6 linked regions of the Homo sapiens genome follow. Changing the gene in region 6 together with the main gene of any one other region gives a genetic interaction. Each region holds a gene or a part of one and is shown on either strand. Other genes may lie near its edges. The genes, in order: SLC30A5, SEC31A, NPRL3, RAB1A, SEC24B and IGF2BP1.

Region 1 (3,278 bases), on a different chromosome or scaffold from region 6:
CAACAGAGTGAGACCCTGTCTCAAAAAAAAAAAAAAAAAAAGAGTTGGAAGATTGATATTTCTGAATAGTAAATGACTACTGAGCCATATAACTTATGAGGTGTACAATTTTGGGTATGAATGACCTCAATTAAAATTACTTTAAAAACAAAAGATTACCTGCTGTACTATTCTTTGTTCTAGCACATCAGATGTCACCTGTATATGAATTGTTCCTGCCACAATACTAGCAGAATGACGCCAAAAATGAGGGTCTCGGTATGATATTAATCCTTCAATTTTCTGTATCTGTCAAATAAAAGAGGTGATATAAATGGTCATACAGGCTACTTTACACAACACAATGGAGATGCTTTCTGACAGAAAGTAAACACACAGATTCCTTGGTCCAGGATCACTATTAAGCTCTTTAAAATACAAAACAAAACAAACAAAAAACCAGCCATAATGAGAAGCCAGAAGCAGGAAGGAATAGGAGATGGGAAAATAGCTTAAAGTAAAGGTGCCTAAAATATTCTGATCTATTTCTGGAGGCTACAGATGTGTGGGGGAAAAAAAATCTCACCTAGGAATGATGCTAGTATGGCAGCTCTGAGTAGGAAGGCAAATGGGTGTTACAGGTATCTTTATTTTGTTCGTTTTTGTTTTTTTTGAGACAGTCTTGCTCTGTCGCAGGCTGGAGTGCAGTGGCACCATCTTGGCTCACTGCAACCTCAGCCTCCCAGGTTCAGGCAATTCTCCTGCCTCAGCCTCCCAAGTAGCTGACTACGGGTGCACGCCACCACGCCTGGCTAAATTTTTTTTTTTTTTTTTTTTTTGTATTTTAGTACAGATGGGGTTTCACCATGTTGCCCAGGCTGGTCTCGAACTCCTGAGTTCAGGCAATCCACCCACCTCAGCCTCCCGAAGTGCTAGGATTATAGGTGTGGACCACCGTGCCCAGCTGTTACAGTTATCTTTATACCTAAAATGGGCTCTTATCAATAGCAGTACCCTTATTTTCCCTGATACAGCACAACTCTGCCTATTCTAATCATGACCTAGACACATTCAATGAACTACAAGTTCTCCTTTACACGGACACATTCATATGCACATTATTTGTTATATAGAGATAACACATTCAAAAGATATCCTCAATGTTCAACAACAGAGGATTGGTTAAATAAATGATTGACTGCCCATACAATGTAATAATGCAGTCATTAACAATGTATTAGAATATTAATCAACATGACATTATTAAGTGGGGAGAAAATTTATAAAACATTACGAAAGTTTTTTGCCATTTTTATTTTCAAAATTTTAATATGGAAACAACTTGTAAAAATGTTTCTTTACATGGCTTTTTGTAGAATGGGAAGGAAACAAAAAGTATTTCTTTCCAGGTGGTAAAATTATGTGATTTTTTTTTTTCTTTTTTGCACTTTTCTATATTTTGAAGTTTTCTGCAATGGATATATATACATATATATATATATTTTGTTGTTGTTGTTGTTGTTGTTTGTTTGTTTGTTTTTTTAAGACAGAGTCTCACTCTGTCGCCCAGGCTGGAGTGCAGTGGTGTGATCTCGGCTCACTGCAACCTCTGCCTCCTGGGTTCAAGCGATTCTTCTGCCTCAGCCTCCCGAATAGCTGGGACTACAGGCACGTGCCACCACACCCAGCTAATTTTTGTATTTTTTGTAGTTTTAGTAGAGATGGGGTTTCACCATATTGACCAGGCTGGTCTCAAACTCCTGACCTTGTGATCCGCCCGCCTCGGCCTCCCAAAGTTCTGGGATTACAGGTGTGAGCCGCCACGCCTGGCCTACAACAGACATATATTATTATTGAAATAAAAAATACTTTAGGCCAGGCGCGGTGGCTCACGCCCATAATCCCTCACTTTGGAAGGCCAAAGCTTGAGCTCAGGATTTCAAGACCAGCCCGGGCAACATTGAGAAACCCCAGCTCTATTTAAAAACAAAACAAACAAACAAAAACTTAAAAAAACCCCATGATGTACTACTATCCAATAACTATGAGGTGAGATAACTTTACTAATTTTATTTATGAAAACAATGGGTTAAGATGATAGAACTTAAATATTCAAGATGCTATCTTTTCATCAGCAGATCCCAATTACTTTAATATGATGTAGTAAACCACGAGGTGAAAGAGAGTCTATTTTATATTTGTTTATTTCTAGGAATTGCTGGTTTATATTCTCATCTTATTTTTCTACATGACTGTTTTTCCTTTGAGACAGTCTTGCTCTGTTGCCCAGGCTGGAGTACAGTGGTGTGATTTTTGGCTCACTGCAACCTCTGCCTCCTGGGTTGAAGTGATTCTCATGCTTCAGCCACTCAGGTAGTTGGGATTACAGGTGTGCGATACTACTACACCCAGCTAATTTTTTTTTTTTTTTTTTTTTTTTTTGAGACGGAGTCTCGCTCTGTGGCCCGGGCTGGAGTGCAGTGGCGTGATCTCGGCTCACTGCAAGCTCCGCCTCCCAGGTTCATGGCTCACTGCAAGCTCCGCCTCCCAGGTTCATGCCATTCTCCTGCCTCAGCCTCCCGAGGAGCTGGGACTACAGGTGCCCACCACGGTGCCTGGCTAATTTTTTGTATTTTTTTTTAGTAGAGACGGGGTTTCACCATGTTAGCCAGGATGGTCTCAATCTCCTGACCTTGTGATCCGCCAGCCTTGGCCTCCCAAAGTGCTGGGATTACAGGCCTGAGCCACCGTGCCAGGCCTAATTTTTTTTTTTGTGTGTGGGGAAGGACAGAGTCTCGCTCTGTTGCCAGTCTCGCTCTGTTGCCATGGCGTGATCTCAGCTCACTGCAACCTCCACCTCCTGGGTTCAAGCGATTCTACTGACTCAGCCTCCTGAGTAGCTTGGATTACAGGTGCCCGCCACCATGCCCGGCTAATTTTTTATATTTTTAGTAGAGATGGGGTTTCATCATGTTAGCCAGGATGGTCTCAATCACCTGACCTCGTGATCTGCCTGCCTCAGCCTCCCAAAGTGCTGGGATTACAGGCGTGAGCCACCGTGCCCGACCCTAATTTTTGTATTTTTAGTAGAGATGGACTTTCACCATGTTGGCCAGGCTGACCTTGAACTCCTGGCCTCAGGTGATCTGCTCACCTCAGCCTCCCAAAGTGCTGGATTACAGGCATGAGCCACCATGCACAGCTAAGATTGTCTTTTTCTTGACTTAAAGAATTATGGACAGTAAACCTTTGCCTGTTTATATGTGCTGCAAATGTTTTTTCCTGGTCTGCCTTTTATG
Region 2 (3,500 bases), on a different chromosome or scaffold from region 6:
CGGGCTTGATGGTGCATGCCTGTAATCTCAGCTACTCGGAAGGCTGGGGCAGGAGAAGTGCTTGAACCCAGGAGGCAGAGGTTGCAGTGAGCCGAGATCACGCCACTGTACTCCAGCCTGGGCGACAAAGCGAGACTCCGTCTCAAGAAAAAAAAAAAAAAAGTTGCTGCAATGTTTTAAAACAGCTAGCAAAGCAAAACCACCAGTATATCATGGAATAAGTTCCTTGATTAACCAATCTCTCTTCATCATTAATAATATCCAACATATTTATTGGGAATTTTATGATTTTCCCTTAGAGGAAAAAAAACAAAACATTCCTTCTAACATGACTGATTAATAAAAAAACAGGATTTGACTTCACAGAAATTTGATTTGTTGTCAACTCTGACAAACAATATAGGAATACCTACAGCAGAAATACAACATGTTCATCACAAGTCAATCACATACTTACTCTGTTACTATGGTCACTGACTTTGATGATTGGCTCATTTTTTCTAAGATCCCATACAGTGGCCCGGCCACTGGGACTGGCTGATGCTAAAATATGCTGAACTTGTCTGTTCCATGCAATGCAGCTGATATCTTCTGGCGGCTACAAGGAAGAAACAGTTAATAAAAACTGCTTGTTTCTCTATTATAATCAAATTTAACTGTAAAATTGGATCCTTCATTTTGAAAAGTGTATTACTTAAAAATCTGATCCATTTATGCCACAAATTTGCTTTATAGTCCTACATCTCTACATTCTCAACACATAAAATTATATGACTTAAAATGCAGGTACATACCACTTCAAGTGTATTATCTTGTTTCATAATATCTCATTCAACAAGAATTTTATTGAATTTCTGCTATAAACCAAGTACTGTTTCTTTACTTTGCAACTGCTGCAAGGTAGATTATGGACCACAAAGTAGATGTTGGTGACTATGACAGAAAACTAGGCAGGGCAAAATTACAGCCTAGACCATTAGCAAAATACCTTTATAAATGGTAGTGCATATGCTGTCATTATGCTACCTCTCAGATTGCCAAAATGTTAGAGCCAGTTACAATGGCTACTCAAGTTGGATAGCCTATACAACATAAAGAAACTCAGGGAAGAACAGGAGAAGACTGTTGTTACCAAACTTAATAGAAATACACAAGCAAAGGGCTTGAGGTATTTATTTTAAACCTTGTCTTCCATGGTCTTGTCTAAGTGTGTTTTAAGAAGGTTGGTTGTTGCCAAAACACAGAGCAACTATCACACAAAGAACAAAAATAATTATACTATATCTAAGACAATTATTAAGGATTTTTGTTCATTTTGTTTACTACTGTATGCCTAGTACAATGACCAGTGTCTACCAGGTGGTAGGTACTAAATAAATATTTACTCTTGATGGACTCACTGATACTTTGAAGAAACATATTTATTAATTACTGAAGAAAAATCAGTAATATCTAAACAATGATTTTAAACATATATGTTTTGTGTGAGAAGCCTTAAAAGTGAAATAAGTAGGTTTAGGAGAACTACTTTTGGCTTTTTTGATTACAATGATCAAAATCAATATAAAAATACCTGTGTTTTGGCTCCTGGTGTCATTGGGGTTGCAAAATTATTTAGATCCCATATGTAGATTTCAGATTCATTAGCACCAGAAGCTACCAGATTAGTCTGCAAGAAGAAACCATAACTAAATAGCACTTATGAATAATTAAGAAAATTCAGAATAACTCAGTTCAGAGCTAGAAAGATATTAGATGTAGCATACACAATTTTTCTATTTAATTTGAAAAGTGAAAAACATATGCATGAATTTCTAAATTATGCATAATTCTTTCAAAATTTAAAGTTTTCTAGAAAAACATAAAATTCTACTTAACAAAGACAAAAGATGTCTACTGAGAACAAATTAATTTTAATGCAAGATATTATTTTAAAAATTATATGGATAAATTCTTTTTTTTTTTTTTTTTTTTGAGATGGAGTTTTGCTCTTGTTGCCCAGGCTGGAGTGCAATGGTGCAATCTCAGCTCACCACAACTTCCGCCTCCCGGGTCCAAGTGATTCTCCTGCCTCAGCCTCCCGAGTAGCTAGGATTACAGGCATGCACCACCACTCCCGGCTAATTCTGTATTTTTAGTAGAGACGGGGTTTCTCCATGTTGGTCAGGCTGGTCTCAAACTCCTGACCTCAGGTGATCCACCTGCCTCGGCCTCCCAAAGTGCTGGGATTACAGGCGTGAGCCACCAAACCTGGCTGGATAAATTCTTAATCAGTCATGCAACCATGTGAGGATTACTGTTTGTATCTTTGCATCTCTGGAAGGAGATTTAATTATAAGATTAAAAAGGTCATCAATTATTGCTTTCAGAAAAAGCTGAATCCTAAAACTGTGGCATCTTTCTCAGGATACCTCAAAGCCAGCTTCCAGAGCTGAATCAATACAGCACTAGTAAAATCTCTTGTCATAACTCTTCACATATTTCTAGTTCATATACACTCAATCTTATTCCAGGTGGCAATATTTCTAGGTTTTCTCTGGTACATACCTTAAGGGTCAAAAAGAACCTGAAATTGTAATATAAAGTACAGGAAGATAATGGGCTTCATATACTGACCTTCATCCACTACTATTTACTCTTACAAATTATTCTCTATCAGTTGGCATATAACTAAAAAAAGGGAGACATTCTATGGTAGTAGCTACCTATAACACAAAATACTTTATTAAAAATCATCAGCTGTTCAATACAATTAACAAAGGAGTTAGCTAAAGAGCAGATACCACAAACTATAGAAACGAAGGCTGGGCACAGTGGCTCATGCCTGTAGTCACAGCACTTTGGGAGGCTGAGGCAGACAGACCACTTGAGCCCAGGAGTTTGGGACCAGCTTGACCAACACGAAAAAACCCTGTCTCTACAAAAATTAGCCAGGTGTTGTGGCTCATGCCTGTAGTCCCAGCTACTCAGGTGGCTGAGACAGAAGACTTGCTTGAGCCCAGGAGGTCAAGACTGCAGTGAGTCATGAGCCACTGCAGTCCAGCCTGGCAGAGGGAGCAAGACGCTGTTTCAAAAAACAAAAAACAACAACAAAAAAGAAATAAACAAGTTGGGTTTCTGTATTGCTATACCCTAAGTATCTATTTATAATATAAGAAAAGGAACTATTTAAAATTTTCTTAATACTCATTTTTGGTTGTTATAATCTAGTATCCTATTAACTCAAGGTCTTTTTTTTTTTTCCAGACAGGGTCTCTATGTGTCACCCAGGTTGCAGTGCAGTGGTGTGATCATAGCTCACTGCAGCGTAGACCTCCCAGGCTAAAGCCATCAACCTACCTCAGCCTCCCGTGTAGCTGAGACTACAGGCGTGTGCCACCATGTTCTGCTAATTGTTTGCATTTTTTGTAATGACAGGGTTTCACCATCCTGTTCAGGCTAAGATCGTTATTAAGCTGTGCATTTATATAATTAACAACCAGAAATGTTTATGAAGGCAA
Region 3 (3,500 bases), on a different chromosome or scaffold from region 6:
CGCCCACATGACTAGCAGCCACAGCTGATCCCATGGCCTGTTGGCCACCCCATCAGCAGCCCCTGCTTCTGATTTCTCCCCGTGCTTTTTTTTTTTTTGGAAACAGAGTCGCCCAGGCTGGAGTACAGTGGCACAATCTCAGCTAACTGCAACCTCTGCCTCCCAGGCTCAATTGATCCTCACACCTCATACCCCCAAGTAGCTGGGACTACAGGTGCACGCCACCACACCCAGCTATTTTTTTTTTTTTTTTTTTTGTATTTTTTGTAGAGACGGGGTTTTGCCATGTTGCTCAGGCTGGTCTCAAAGTCCTGGGCTAGGATGACAGGCATGAGCCACCGTGCCCAGCCTTGCCTGCGCTTTTCCTCCCACACTCCAACCAGATCCGCAGACGAGGCTGAGGGGCCCTCCATCTAATCAGAAAGGGCAGCCCTCTGCATGGACAGGCCCATAAGCATGTGGCTCAGCAAGGACGTGGCATCTTGTACAGAGTGCACAGGCCAACACATGTGCACACACAGGGGCGTAAGGCCACCAGGTTAGGTCTCTGTTCTGCACATGGGAGGGCCCCGCATCCAAGCTTCCTGCCCTTAGTTCCCGTATGTTGTTCATGCACCACTGTGAGACCCCCATGGCCCTGCCCGCTGCTGCCCTGCCCACCCCCTAGCTCTGGTGCCTCAACCTCCAGGACTGCAAGCACCCCAGTCCTTTCTCTCACAGACTCGCCTTACCTCTCTGAGACAGAAGAACAAGTCAGTCCCGTGGCTCACTCACAAAGCCAGCCCTGAACCCAGGTCTGACTCAGATGCCAAAACCTCCAGCCATCCCAGGGACTGGCCCCACCCCATGGTGGGCTGTGCCGCGGCTCTCAGCTGGACACAGCCCCTGTGGATGTACTGTGGCAGGCGGCCTGCCTTTCCTGATGCCCCAGCACCGCCACATGCCACCCATCTGGGCCTCCAGAGCTATACCTGCAGCAAGGCCAGGTCCGCATCTTGGGCTAGCTGCTGCAGGTTCTTCACAGCAGATGTGGTCTTGATCACCCGCACTAGGGCAGGGGAGCAGTCAATAGGAAGCTCACCCAGCAAGGACTTCTCATCACTGAGCAGCAGCAGGGCATGGTAGGGGCTGCAAAACAATCACCTGTCACGGAACACACGAAGTGCAGGAACCCTGCACCGGGTATGCACCAGGTCCTGCACCAGGTATGCACCGGGTATGCACCAGGTCCTGCACCAGGTATGCACCGGGTATGCACCAGGTATGCACCTGGGACTCAAACACACGGAACATACGAAGTGCAGGGAACCCTGCACCAGGTATGCACCAGGTCCTGCACGAGGTCCTGCACCGGGTGTGCATCAGGTATGCACCTGGGACACAAACAGGCAGCTGGAGCCTCCTGGCCCTTAACTGCGGAGAGAAGGGCCAAGAGCGGGATTTGAGAAAAGGGCAGTGGTCTGTTTGGAGGCCTTCACAAAATCTGCCAAGGACTGGCTCATGCCTATAATCCCGGCACTCTGGGAGGCCAAGGCAGGCAGGTCACGTGAGGTCAGGAGTTCGAGGCCAGCCTGGCCAACATGGTGAAACCCCATCTCTACTAAAAATAAAAAAATTATCCGGGTGTGGTTGCACCCACCTGGGGTCCCAGCTACTCGGCAGGCTGAGGCAGGAGAATCACTTGAGCCTGGGAGGCGGAGCTTGCAGTGAGCCGAGATTGCGCCATTGCACTCCAGCCTGGCGACAGAGTGAGACTCTGTCTCAAAAACAACAAAAACAAAACCTGCAAGGATTATGTCACCCTCGGAAAAAAACACGACAAAAGTGGGGAAGGCTCGAAGACTGGACTCTGTATCCCACCTCAGAGACGCCCAGCAAACATCTGTTGATTGAAGACATGAATGAATCTTTCCTAAGGAAATTGTCCCAAATATGGGAAAAGCAAAATCCTCCTCACAGACTAGGGACCAAAGTACATTAAAATATGCTTAGCTAGGATTGAAAGCAAAGAGCACGGACTGGGGAGGGTGGAACTAGGCAGCGCTTTGCTTTCTGTCATTTCCAAATTTTCAGCAATGTGCCCAGATATATTTTTATAATTAAAAAATGTTCAAGGTATTGGGGGACTTGGGAACAGGTGGTGCCAGAAGACTGGGCTCAGTTCTTTCCTTGCAGAAAATCAATTAAATTGCCAGGGCATGGTGGCTAACACCTGTAACCCAGCACTTTGGCAGGCCGAGGCGGGTGGATCACGAGGTCAGGAGTTCAAGACGAGCCTGGCCAACATGGTGAAACCCCATCTCTACTAAAAATACAAAAATTAGCCAGGTGTAGTGGTGTGCACCCATAATCCCAGCTACTCAGGGGGCTGAGGCAGGAGAATCGCTTGAACCCGGGAGACAGAGGCTTCACTGAGTGGAGACTGTGCCACTGCACTTGAGCCCCGAGCAAGACTACATCTCAAAAAAAAAAAAAAAAAAGTCAATTAAATTAAGAAAGTATATTTTGGGAGGCTGAGATGAGCGATGAGTGGATCACCTGAGGTCAGGAGTTCGAGACCAGTCTGGCCAACATGGTGAAACCCTGTCTCTACTAAAAGTACCAAAAAAATTAGCCAGGCATGGCAGTGGGCGCCTGTAATCCCAACTACTCGGGAGCCTGAGGCAGGAGAATCACTTGAACTTGGGAGGTGGACGTAGTGGTGAGCCGGGATCGCACTACTGAAATCCAGCCTGGGCGATAAGATCAAAACTCTGTCTCTCTCTCACACACACACACACCCCCGCAAAAAAAAAAAAAAAAAAGAAAAAGAAAAAAAAAAGAAAAAGAAAATAACTGAGATCCCATGAGTGCTGACTGAAATGCAAAAGACTGGGGTAGGGCAACACCATTAAGATGAAGTCCCTCCAGCCCTCCGGCCTCCCCAAGGACACTCAGCCCCACATCCAGGCTGCCCTGCCCAAGCCTAAGGTGGTGCCAGAAGGGCCCAGGAGAAACCTGGGATTGGTCATTTCTGGACACAACTGGATACAAAATTATGTGTTTTAACTTCTATAAACGGCAGAGCCCCACCTGCAAGCTTCCGCAGTGGGAAGAAGAAAAAGAGAAATTTTGGAACAAAGTAAGTGGTAAAATCTCAGGCAGAAGCTAAAGGGAAGGGCCCTGGCAGGGAGTGAGCACGTGGGGCTGGGCACTTACCGGATGGCTTTCAGGCTCCGTTCGATGGCCTCTGGGGGGATCAGACTGGAGGCCGCATAGTGGATCTTGTGGGGCAGGCAGAAGCTCACCTCCAGCCAGCTGTTGATGTGAAGCCGAACTACGCCCGACGTGCACAGGCTGCAGAGAGTGGGCGCTGTTACCCGTTCACATAAACTTTCTAACCATGCACACAGATCAGAAAACACCCTGCTCAATGGTGCTGATTCCCCTGCTGCTTAGGGGAAACTGCAGGTGGAGACCCGGGCAGGAGAGCATCTCTTAAGATCACATTATGTTTAAGA
Region 4 (2,877 bases), on a different chromosome or scaffold from region 6:
TTAAAACCTGTAGTAGCTTTGAACCGTTTGTACTTGAAAATGGGGGTATAAAGGGGTATATATTTTTTCCAGAACCACATTTATTGGCGTATACATAGAAGCAAATCTTAAGGCATGCTGAAATTTGTTGTAAATCCCAATCTTTACTGCCATGGGGAAAAGAACGCTGGAATTTTCCAAACTTAAGTCTGTAAATATGCTCATCTTAAGTTCATGTAATGTTTCCGCTAACTCACCAAGAATAAGCTGACAATTTAAACAACTTTTACTGTGTAAAAATGAAGTGCACGGCATGGCATCACAGTATCTTGACATTTGTTTTGTGTCATTTAGCTACTTTAGAAAATAGTTTCTGAACTCTTTCCCCCTTTATACTGTATTAAGGCAAAAACAAAACTTCTGAAGCATTAAAGATCTTCACCAAAATAACTATTGGTAACTTCAGGAATTTGTCAGTTGCCTTATGTGAGGATGAATAGATCCACCAAGCACGCCTATAATACAAAGTAAACTATGATTTTTATTGTGAAATTTTCATAGATGGAAAATTGAATATTCTGTCCATTTCATTTTACAATTATCTTACCACTTATTTTTGTACCATGTATTTCAATTGCCTGTTTAGTGAAAAATAAAAATTAAAAAAACCTATTCATTTTTGGCTTGTGTTTAGCTTAAATTTTATCATTAAATTAAGGAGCCCACAACAAAATGTGTTGCCAGCAGCCATATCCCAAGCCCCTGCGTGAAGAATGTTTTGGCTGCTATTTCAACCTAAGGAAACAACGTTTGACCTCAGTCACCTTAAAATGCCAGTGTGGGCAGAAGATTTTTTATTCCTCACAATTAAAAACCAAACAAAACCCCCTAGGATCTTGAAGGTCCTATTTCAGAAAATCTTCATATATGCAAAATGTCACCAAAATAAATACATTTGCCTCAATTATCATTACCACCCAGTATTCATGTTTTAATTTTTAGGGATATAATTTCTAAATTTAGAGCAATCAAATTTCCTGCTTCCTATCTTAATGCTTAAACCCTCCTCCAACACCAAGTTAAGCAACTGTGGAGGATAAAATAGTTGAATCTGACTGAAAGCATGGAAGAAAAACATTAGCACACATTAGTCTGATCATTTGCCAATTAGGAAAGGTGCTGCTTTCTACCTCTACCACAGATGCATTTATGAAATGTTGATCAATGAAGCTATTTCAAATGGTTTTAGAGAAGGATCAGAGATAACGGGCTAGATAGCATACATTCTAAACTTGTTTTACATATAGTTTGAGCTCCCTGAACCACTGAAGTTGGTTAAATCCCTACACAGCACAGAAGCCCCTCTAGGTCATGTTATTGGGCATATTATCTAGAAAGCAAATACTGGATGCTGCTCTAAGATAGGTCTAGAATACCTTAGTTTGCATTGTGCACACACAAATGGCTGTGTTGAATATAATGCAAGGCTCTATTTCCCTTTAACCATAAGAATCAAAACAATACTTATCACCATACAGTTTGATATTACTTCCAATAAGTACAATATTTATTAAACATATCTTCAGTTGTTTTGTTACATAGTGTGCAACAAATTACAATATTCTGCAGCCACAAATTATATGCAGAGTATGAAGAAACTATTAATCAGATAGTGTAATCTTTCCATTTATAACTCTACAAGGAAGAACTAGCAAATCAGATCTTACATATAACATCTCACTAAACTTTATGCATGGAAAGTGACAGACACTGCTTGTGCTGTTTGATACAAAATGGCTGAACTTCATCTTCAGAAGACTAAACCTGACATCTAAACATGCCAATATAAACATCAAAACAAAATATATTCTAACCAACCACGGGAAACAGTCTGGTATCAGGAAAGCAACAAGGATTACACACATTATTTTATAAACCAGCACACAAAGGTTTAAAACAGTTCTGAAAATGAAGTTAGCTGTCTTGAGTCAAGGGAATAAAAAAAAAGTCAGTATTGACCATTTACAATCTCTGACCTTTGTGGAGACGGTAAGAATCTGTTGTAGTGCAGCTACATACAGTACAATTCAGGCAATTTTGTTTTTTCACTTGGGTTCAGATTGCAAATTCATTGCTGTGAGAAAAGGATGGAGGCAAATTTTAGCAGCAACCTCCACCTGACTGCTTGACTGGAGTGCTCTGAATTTTAACATTGGACTTCTCAGCACCACCAGCTGTTGCTCCGGGACCCATTCGCTTTTTAATCTCAGCTGCCATCGTCATGAAAGACTGTTCTACATTCGTTGCATTCTTAGCACTGGTTTCCAAAAACGGAATTCCAAGGGAATCAGCAAATTCCTAAGAGAATAATGAGGCACAATTAACACTGAAAAATCTTTTTCACTAATTCTTAGTGCATTTCTACCATCCATAATGGAGCGTGAGGAACTAAGTTCATTGGATCCAAACAGATGCTACACAAATTGTCACTGTCACAGTATTCTAGTGCACATATTTTTAAAAGGCTGTGGCCTTACTGTTACTGCAGAACCCATACATAATTCAACACCTTCAAATTCAGTATGAAAATTAAACTTTAAACATACCTTCGCTGTTGTGTAGTCTACTACTTTCTTTGTGGTCAGATCACATTTGTTCCCTACCAACAATTTGTTGACATTTTCACTGGCATAACGATCTATTTCCTGCAGCCACTGTTTAACATTATTGAAGGACTCCTAAAAAGACATTTGAAAGACTGATAATATAGTTCGATAATATAGTTCTGGAATAAACAGAAACATCGTTCCTGACCTAACAGACAAATAACAAAGAGCTAGTGAGACAACTCTAGCTACAAAATAACCACTGCTAAGGAGTGAAGAGATTTTTTTTTTT
Region 5 (3,500 bases), on a different chromosome or scaffold from region 6:
TGGTGGCAATGAATATGGTTTACAAAATTAATTACTGCTACAATCCCAGAAACTTGGGGGGAGAGGAAGGGAGTGAAAAGACACTGCAAACAACTAAAGCAATATATATAGCAATAAAAAATAAAAATTAAACCCAGATATAAGACCCTTGTTTACATATGGAGTGAATACTTTAAGATCTTTTTTTTTTTTTTGCGACGAAGTCTCGCTCTTGTCCCCCAGGCTGGAGTGCAATGGCACAATCTTGGCTCACCACGACCTCCACCTCCCAGGTTCAAGTGATTCTCCTGCCTCAGCCTCCCGAGTAGCTGGGATTACAGGCACCTGCCACCACGCCTGGCTAATTTTTGTATTTTTAGTAGAGACGGGTTTCATCCTGTCGTCCAGGCTGGTCTCAAACTCCTGACCTCAAGTGATCCGCCCGCCTCAGCCTCCCAAAGTGCTTGGATTACAGGCGTAAGCCACCATGCTCGGCCTACTTTAAGATCTTTGAGATATCTATCAATCAGCTTAGAGCCAGGCTCAGTGGCTCACGCCTGTAATCCCAGCACTTTGGGAGGCTAAGGCGGGTGGATCATCTGAGGTCAGCAGTTCAAGACCAGCCTGATCAATATAGTGAAACCCTGTCTCTACTAAAAATACAAAATTAGCCAGGCATGGTGGCGCATGCCTGTAATCCCAGCTACTCGGGAGGCTGAGCAGGAGAATCGCTTGAACCCGGGAGGCGGAGGTTGCAGTGAGCTGAGATTGTGCCATTGTATTCCAGCCTGGTCAACAAGACTGAAACTCAGTCTCAAAAAAAAAAAAAAAAAAAAAAAAAAAAAAAAAAAAAAAAAAAAATCAGCTTAGGAGGAAATTATGTATTCAGACACAGTCACTTTAATACCACAGGGGTATATTCATGAGAGGACCTGATGCTTCCGGTTAGCTATAAATGGAGACTAGAAACCTGAGACACTGATGTGGCTCTGATCAAAAGGAACTTATTTGAGATACACTAGGGAGATTTATATCATTTTAAATGCTGCATGTGCCCTCAAAGTTTAAGGGTTTCCAGTGACTGACCCGATAGTACTGCTGTATGAATGGTATGTTTATTTACATCTTCCATAGTGAGTTCTAGTAATTCCCATTACTATCTCATCTTTCTTGCATTATTAACAATTAAAGTGATAAAACTGTAGTTTCATTCTGGAAAAGGGCATATGGAAGGATTAAAATATACTTTCATTTGAAAATGAACACCATTTGCTTCCTAAAAGTAAAATTAAAAAGCAGCAGCTTATTATTAAATCTGACTGCCCCATCCCCTCACCTCCCAACAAGTTCATTACCAGGCTATTACTTTAGTCAGTCTTCCTACGTTTGAGGACTCAGCTTTGGAAGGAATCCCAAAAGGCAGAGTAAAAGGTAAGAAATATTCAATTAATGCTTGGTATGGAAATACAAATAGTTTTAAAAATCCATATATTGCTCAATGAAAAATGAAGGATAGAAATACAACACCAAGGAAGGAAGCTTAAGAGAAAGATTTCACAGACTTGAAATCAAGTCAAGCTGTATCTTCGAATAAGTGGAGGAAACATGCTAGCAGTTACACCTAGAAAACAAGTAAAAGTGATCATGAAGACTAGGTTTTCTGCCTCTCTATTCCTTTCTTCTCAAACATCAAAGTTTCTAAAAAGAATTTTCTTAGAGTCTGTTAACAGAAAGAGATCTTTAGGCTGGGCATGGTGGCTCATGCCTGTAATCCCAGCACTTTGGGAAGTCTAGATGGGAGGATCACTTGAAGCCAGGAGTTTGAGATCAGTCTCTACAAATTTTTTTTTAAAAGTTAGCTGGGTATGGTGTCACACACCTATAGTCCCAGCTACTCAGGAAGCCATGGTGGGAAGACTGCTTGAGCCCAGGAGTTCAAGGCTGCAGTGAGCTATGATGGCAACACTGTACTCCAGCTTGGGTGACAGAGTGAGATTCTGTCTCTAAAATAAATAAATAAATAAACAAACAGACAAAAAGTTTTAAGAAGAGATCTAGAGTTGGAATTAGCAAAAATAAAATGGACTTCATTTAATACATGTCTAATGAATACCTGTAACTTGCCTATACTGTTCTAGGCTCTTATTATACAACGTGAACAAGAGACAGAAAAAACTGCCACCCTCACAAAGCTTTCACAGAATTGGTAGAAAATGTACCTACTTAACCTTTCTGAATCTTCATTTCATCTGTAAAGGTAGGGATCCAAACTATGTGTTTTTCAAACTGTGCTTAAAAACAACTGAACTTCTACTTCTATTTTAACCGCAACCACTTTGCTTTTTTCTGATTTCTCTATCAGGGATCTATATACAATATCCTTTGGAAAAACAAATCTTAAAAAACGTTTGTGGGCCAGGCACGGTGGCTCACGTCTGTAATCCGAGCACTCTGGGAGGCCGAGGCAGGTGGATCACAAGGTCAGGAGATGGAGACCATCCTGGCCAACATGGTGAAACTCCATCTCTACTAAAAATACAAAAATTACCCAGGAGTGGTGGTGTGCGCCTGTAGGCCCAGCTACTCAGCAGGCTGAGGCAGGAGAATCGCTTGAACCCAGGAGGTGGAGGTTGCAGTGAGCTGAGATCGTGCCACTGCACTCCAGCCTGGGCGACACAGCGAGACTCCGTCTCAAACAAACAAAAAAAGTTTGCCATTTGCTAACCACTTGTAAAAGAAAAAACAGGGCCCAGCCCAGTGGCTCACACCTATAATCGCAAGACTTTGGTAGGTCTAGCCAGGACGATCACTTGAGGCCAGGAGTTAGAGAACAGCCTGGGCAACATGGTGAGACTCAGTCTCTACAAAAATAAAAATAAAAATAATTAGCCAGGAGTGGTAGTGCATGCCTATAGTCCTAGCTACTTGGGAAGCTGAGGCAGGAGGATCACTTGAGCCCAGGAGGTTGAGGCTGCAGTTAGCTATGATGGAGTCACTGACTCCAGCCTGGGTGGCAGAGTGACACCCTGTCTCTAAAACAAACAATAAAAAACAAAAAACTTCTTTCACTCTACTCTCATTCTGCACAGACCACTTCTGTGACCAGATGTGTGAATTTTTGTTTTTATTTTTCCCCAACAGACACCAACTGGGGGTCCTCCAACTCAATTCAATTCTGACACTACCTACCTGAAGTTAGACTCGGATCCCACAGATTAAGGGTTCAGTCCCACAAGATGGCTCCCCACTTCAGATGCCTATCATAAGTATCACAAGTAGCAGGTTGCCATCTGTACTTCTGAGGAACCAGTTACAAACTGGAGTTTCTACTACCCCCTCCTTAGGTTCAATTACTTTGGTAGAAGGGCTTGTGGAAGTCAGGAAAACATTTAAATTTATTGTTTATTATAAAGGATATTACAAAGGATACAGATGAACAGCCAAATGAAAGAGATGTACAGGGCAAAGGATGGGGGCAGGTGCCGCCACCCTCCCAGCATCTCCACATGTTCAGCAACCCA
Region 6 (3,500 bases):
AAGAGGAGGTAATTGTTAATCAGTGGTTCATATATCTGTGACAAAAGAGAAAAGTGGGAAAAAGGAAGCTCCAGCCCATATTTTCTGGCCCACAGGCCCTCCCCATCCTAGGCGGGCTAACCATCTAAGGCAGGTGAAGGGCAAGGCTCAGGTGGGCAGCTTGTCAGCATTCCTTCTGCTTAGCTATCATACTGGAGACCCTGGGTGGAGATTATGAGTTATGAGTAATTGAATAAACACTTCCCAAGGGAAAAAATAGTTCCCAGAGGAATCTAATTCACAAGCTACAAACCAGACCTATGGAATCTGGACGTGGCACTGACCAGCATTTCAAGGCCCTGAATGGCAACTAATCAAGTCACACAGAGGGCAGGCCTGTCTGACTCTCCAGTGGCCCAGAGAGCTGTCCCAGTCCTCTATCCTCACATATGTTAGGTTAAGCTAGTTGATGGTTCATTTTTTGGCTGTCTGATCAGAAGTTCAAGAACCTTAGGATTTAGTGGGGACATAAAAGATGAGAATTTGGCATTAAAGGCCTTCCTTAGAAATGACAGCAGAGTGCAAATAAGATGCCCTCAGACTTCTTTCCTTCCCATCTTCTTCTGTGGACCTTAAAAAGGGAAGACGAAGTCAACAGAAATCCAGTTTGATGTCAATTTGAAAATAGCTCTGCAGCCCTTTATCCTGCATGGAAGGCTTAAAGATGTGATGAGGACTTGACAGCTAACGGGAAACTGACCCAGCCTTTTTCCTACCTCAGGGGAAATACCCAACCTCAATTCCTCCATGTTCAGCTTGGAAAACAATAAAGACCAAAACCTTGAATTGGGCCTCTGGCGGTCCAGTGATGATAACCATACGAACTTTGGAGTCAGGTGTTTCGGGTGGTGCAATCTAAAAAGCAAAAAGCTAGTCAATGAGGGACCCTCTATGGGAAGACCCCCACCATGTCCACTTCATCCAGTTCCCCTTCTACCACCCTTACTCCCAACTACCCATTCTGAAGACTTAGGGGAGGAAGAACAAAGACCCTGAAGCCCACATCATTACGCCTTCACACCAGAATTATTAGGAGGGCAGAGGTGGTCAGTTAGAAGGATTGGCTTCAATGACACTTTCTAAGTAGGGCCTCCTGCCCCCTCCACCTACCAATCTCCCAGAGAGGTTTCAGTGGAGTCTTGCCAACAGGCAAGGACACAAATGAAATGACCAACGGATAGAGGGCAGTGACTGCACCTCCACTGGAGAACAATCAAGGTTTTTGCTCAAAGCTTTTAAGACAACTAAAGCAACCGGATTTAGGTTTGTGAAACTCTAACAGCATCCTTGTTTCACTATGACAGATTCTCCCTTCTCTCTCCCCTGGACCTTGGCCAGGGAAGGTGACAGACAACTAACACTTACTTGGTGTTAGTATGTGAGCGAAGGGCTTTGGCTGCGTAGCCTCATAATATTGTACTGACGAGGAAAGTGAGGCTCAGATCATATAGTGTATTGGGGGAAGGGGTGATGAGATGGATCTTGGATTTGAACCCATCAGTTTGTGTTAGAACCTAAGTTCTCTTTCTATGTTATAACCCTGCCCCTGCCCAGCCTGAAAACCCAGAAGCACTGAAGCCATCCCATGGGGACCAAGCAAGATCAAAAACAAAGAGGACTTCGATTCCATGGGGGAAAGGTCCCTCATATGACACACAGAATTCTCAAATGAGTAGGGGGAATATGGGAGAAAGTGCAGAGTGATAAAAGCAGAGACCCCTCCCTTTCCAGAAACAGGAAGACCCACAGAGCAGATCACCTTGATGGAGGCGCTGGCAAACCGGGAGAGCTGTTTGATGTGCTGCCCCTTCTTGCCGATGATGGCGCCCACTGCCTGGGCGGGGATAAACACCTGCACCATCTCCTGCTCGGGAGCCTGCTGCCAGGATAGGAGGCGTTGTTACCAGGGGGCCCAAGTAGCATGGCCCAGAAACCCTCCACTCCCCTGCCTTGCATCCTCAAGGAGGAAGGAGTACAGGCACCAAACCGCCACCCTGGGCTGCCAAGGGATGCTGTGAGCTCTTTAGCTCTTCCTATGCCCAGTAGGGCTAAAGGGAAGAGGCCAGGAGAGAGTAAGGGAACAGTGCTGTCTATGCCCCGGGAGCATTCTAGGCAGACATTTGGGAGCCTCAGAGCCAGTGGCTAGGAGCACTGGAGAGGAGGGATGCCTCTGAGACCTTCCTTCCCTCTCCCTGCAAACTTGCCAAGCATCCAACTCCCAGAGCATGCTGAGTCCCCCTTAAGGGAGGCCACATATGGGCCCAGGGATCCCGTGTAATAAGATCTTCCACCTACCATAAAGGAGCTATAGGGAGCAGCCCCAGTAACGCTGCTGGGAGGCGGCGGGACTGCGCTGGATGAAGCTGGGAAAAGACCTACAGCAGCCAGGTTCAGGCCAGGGATCAGGTGAGACTGCAGCTGGGGAAGAAAGATGAGGAGGAAGAGTCAGCACACCCTGACAGGGGCTTGTGTGTGACCCCCGCTGTATAAAAGGCGAGTAGCCCCAGAGGCAAGTGGGCCAAAAACATGAATTACATACTTTTCCACAAAAGCCTATTCTGTGCTTTTCATACACTCTCACCTACACACTTCGGGTGTGGAATTTTAAGTGATATGATGTTCTCACTGGACTAACGGCTAGCAATTGCAACCAGAAATGCCAAACAGTTGTACACCCTCAGGAGTCCTTCCTCTCTGGCTGTTCAGACTGCTGGAGACAGACGATAGACCCATGACACTATACTATAACCCCCTATATGAGAAAAAGGCGTGGAGACAGAGCTCCATTGGACTTCTAGGACTCTGATTCTAAACATTTTTGGTCCTGTACCCCAACCCCAAGTCTCCTTTAAAAATCAGATGAGTTGTGTGCAGTGGCTCATGCTTATAATCCTAGTACTTTGGGAGGCCAAGGTAGGAGAATCGCTTGAGCCCAGGAGTTCTAGACCAACCTGGGTGACACAGCAAGACCCTGTTTCCAAAAAATAAAATTTTAAAAAATTAGCTGGGCATGGTGGTGTACACCTGTAGTCTCCTAGGTACTTGGGAGGCTGAAGCAGGAGTATTCCTTGAGCCCAGGGGGTCAAGGCTGCAGTAAGCTATGATTGCGCCATTGTGCTCCAACCTGGGCAACATACCAAGACCCTGTCTCAAAAAAATAAAATAAAAATCAGATGAAAACGATGGACCCCCTCATTTCAATAAAGTGCACACAAACACAAATTGTACACATACTTGGAATCACAGGACTCAAAGCCCAAGATTGGACCCCTACTCTAGGAACCAGGTGAAGAATCCTTGCTAATTAAATACTATTTAAATACTATTTCTGATAGTCGAAGTCCAAAAGCATCAACTAAAGCTCCAAGGCCACACGGCACAGGGCACATGTCCATCACCCTGCACCCCACAAGCTGCTGTTGCTAAGACTCAGGAAAGGATAAGCAGAGGGTACTACCCAG

The links.
Region 1: changes in IGF2BP1 (region 6) and SLC30A5 together harm fitness less than expected from each alone (positive genetic interaction), as found in Homo sapiens cells (one large-scale study listed by BioGRID).
Region 2: changes in IGF2BP1 (region 6) and SEC31A together harm fitness more than expected from each alone (negative genetic interaction), as found in Homo sapiens cells (one large-scale study listed by BioGRID).
Region 3: changes in IGF2BP1 (region 6) and NPRL3 together harm fitness more than expected from each alone (negative genetic interaction), as found in Homo sapiens cells (one large-scale study listed by BioGRID).
Region 4: changes in IGF2BP1 (region 6) and RAB1A together harm fitness more than expected from each alone (negative genetic interaction), as found in Homo sapiens cells (one large-scale study listed by BioGRID).
Region 5: changes in IGF2BP1 (region 6) and SEC24B together harm fitness more than expected from each alone (negative genetic interaction), as found in Homo sapiens cells (one large-scale study listed by BioGRID).

The regions. Positions count from the first base shown.
Region 1 is NC_000005.10:69,125,014-69,128,291, reverse strand, and holds part of SLC30A5 (proton-coupled zinc antiporter SLC30A5), read right to left. Parts: intron 289-3,278; coding exon 160-288; intron 1-159. UniProt on the Homo sapiens protein: Together with SLC30A6 forms a functional proton-coupled zinc ion antiporter mediating zinc entry into the lumen of organelles along the secretory pathway.
Region 2 is NC_000004.12:82,874,154-82,877,653, forward strand, and holds part of SEC31A (protein transport protein Sec31A), read right to left. Parts: intron 1,670-3,500; coding exon 1,574-1,669; intron 599-1,573; coding exon 458-598; intron 1-457. UniProt on the Homo sapiens protein: Component of the coat protein complex II (COPII) which promotes the formation of transport vesicles from the endoplasmic reticulum (ER).
Region 3 is NC_000016.10:97,174-100,673, forward strand, and holds part of NPRL3 (GATOR1 complex protein NPRL3), read right to left. Parts: intron 3,337-3,500; coding exon 3,199-3,336; intron 1,129-3,198; coding exon 972-1,128; intron 1-971. UniProt on the Homo sapiens protein: As a component of the GATOR1 complex functions as an inhibitor of the amino acid-sensing branch of the mTORC1 pathway.
Region 4 is NC_000002.12:65,086,354-65,089,230, forward strand, and holds the end of RAB1A (ras-related protein Rab-1A), read right to left. Parts: intron 2,718-2,877; coding exon 2,586-2,717; intron 2,338-2,585; coding exon 2,140-2,337; 3' UTR 501-2,139; downstream 1-500. UniProt on the Homo sapiens protein: The small GTPases Rab are key regulators of intracellular membrane trafficking, from the formation of transport vesicles to their fusion with membranes.
Region 5 is NC_000004.12:109,436,815-109,440,314, reverse strand, and holds part of SEC24B (protein transport protein Sec24B), read right to left. Parts: intron 1-3,500. UniProt on the Homo sapiens protein: Component of the coat protein complex II (COPII) which promotes the formation of transport vesicles from the endoplasmic reticulum (ER).
Region 6 is NC_000017.11:49,042,385-49,045,884, reverse strand, and holds part of IGF2BP1 (insulin-like growth factor 2 mRNA-binding protein 1), read right to left. Parts: intron 2,458-3,500; coding exon 2,335-2,457; intron 1,919-2,334; coding exon 1,799-1,918; intron 895-1,798; coding exon 820-894; intron 1-819. UniProt on the Homo sapiens protein: RNA-binding factor that recruits target transcripts to cytoplasmic protein-RNA complexes (mRNPs). This transcript 'caging' into mRNPs allows mRNA transport and transient storage.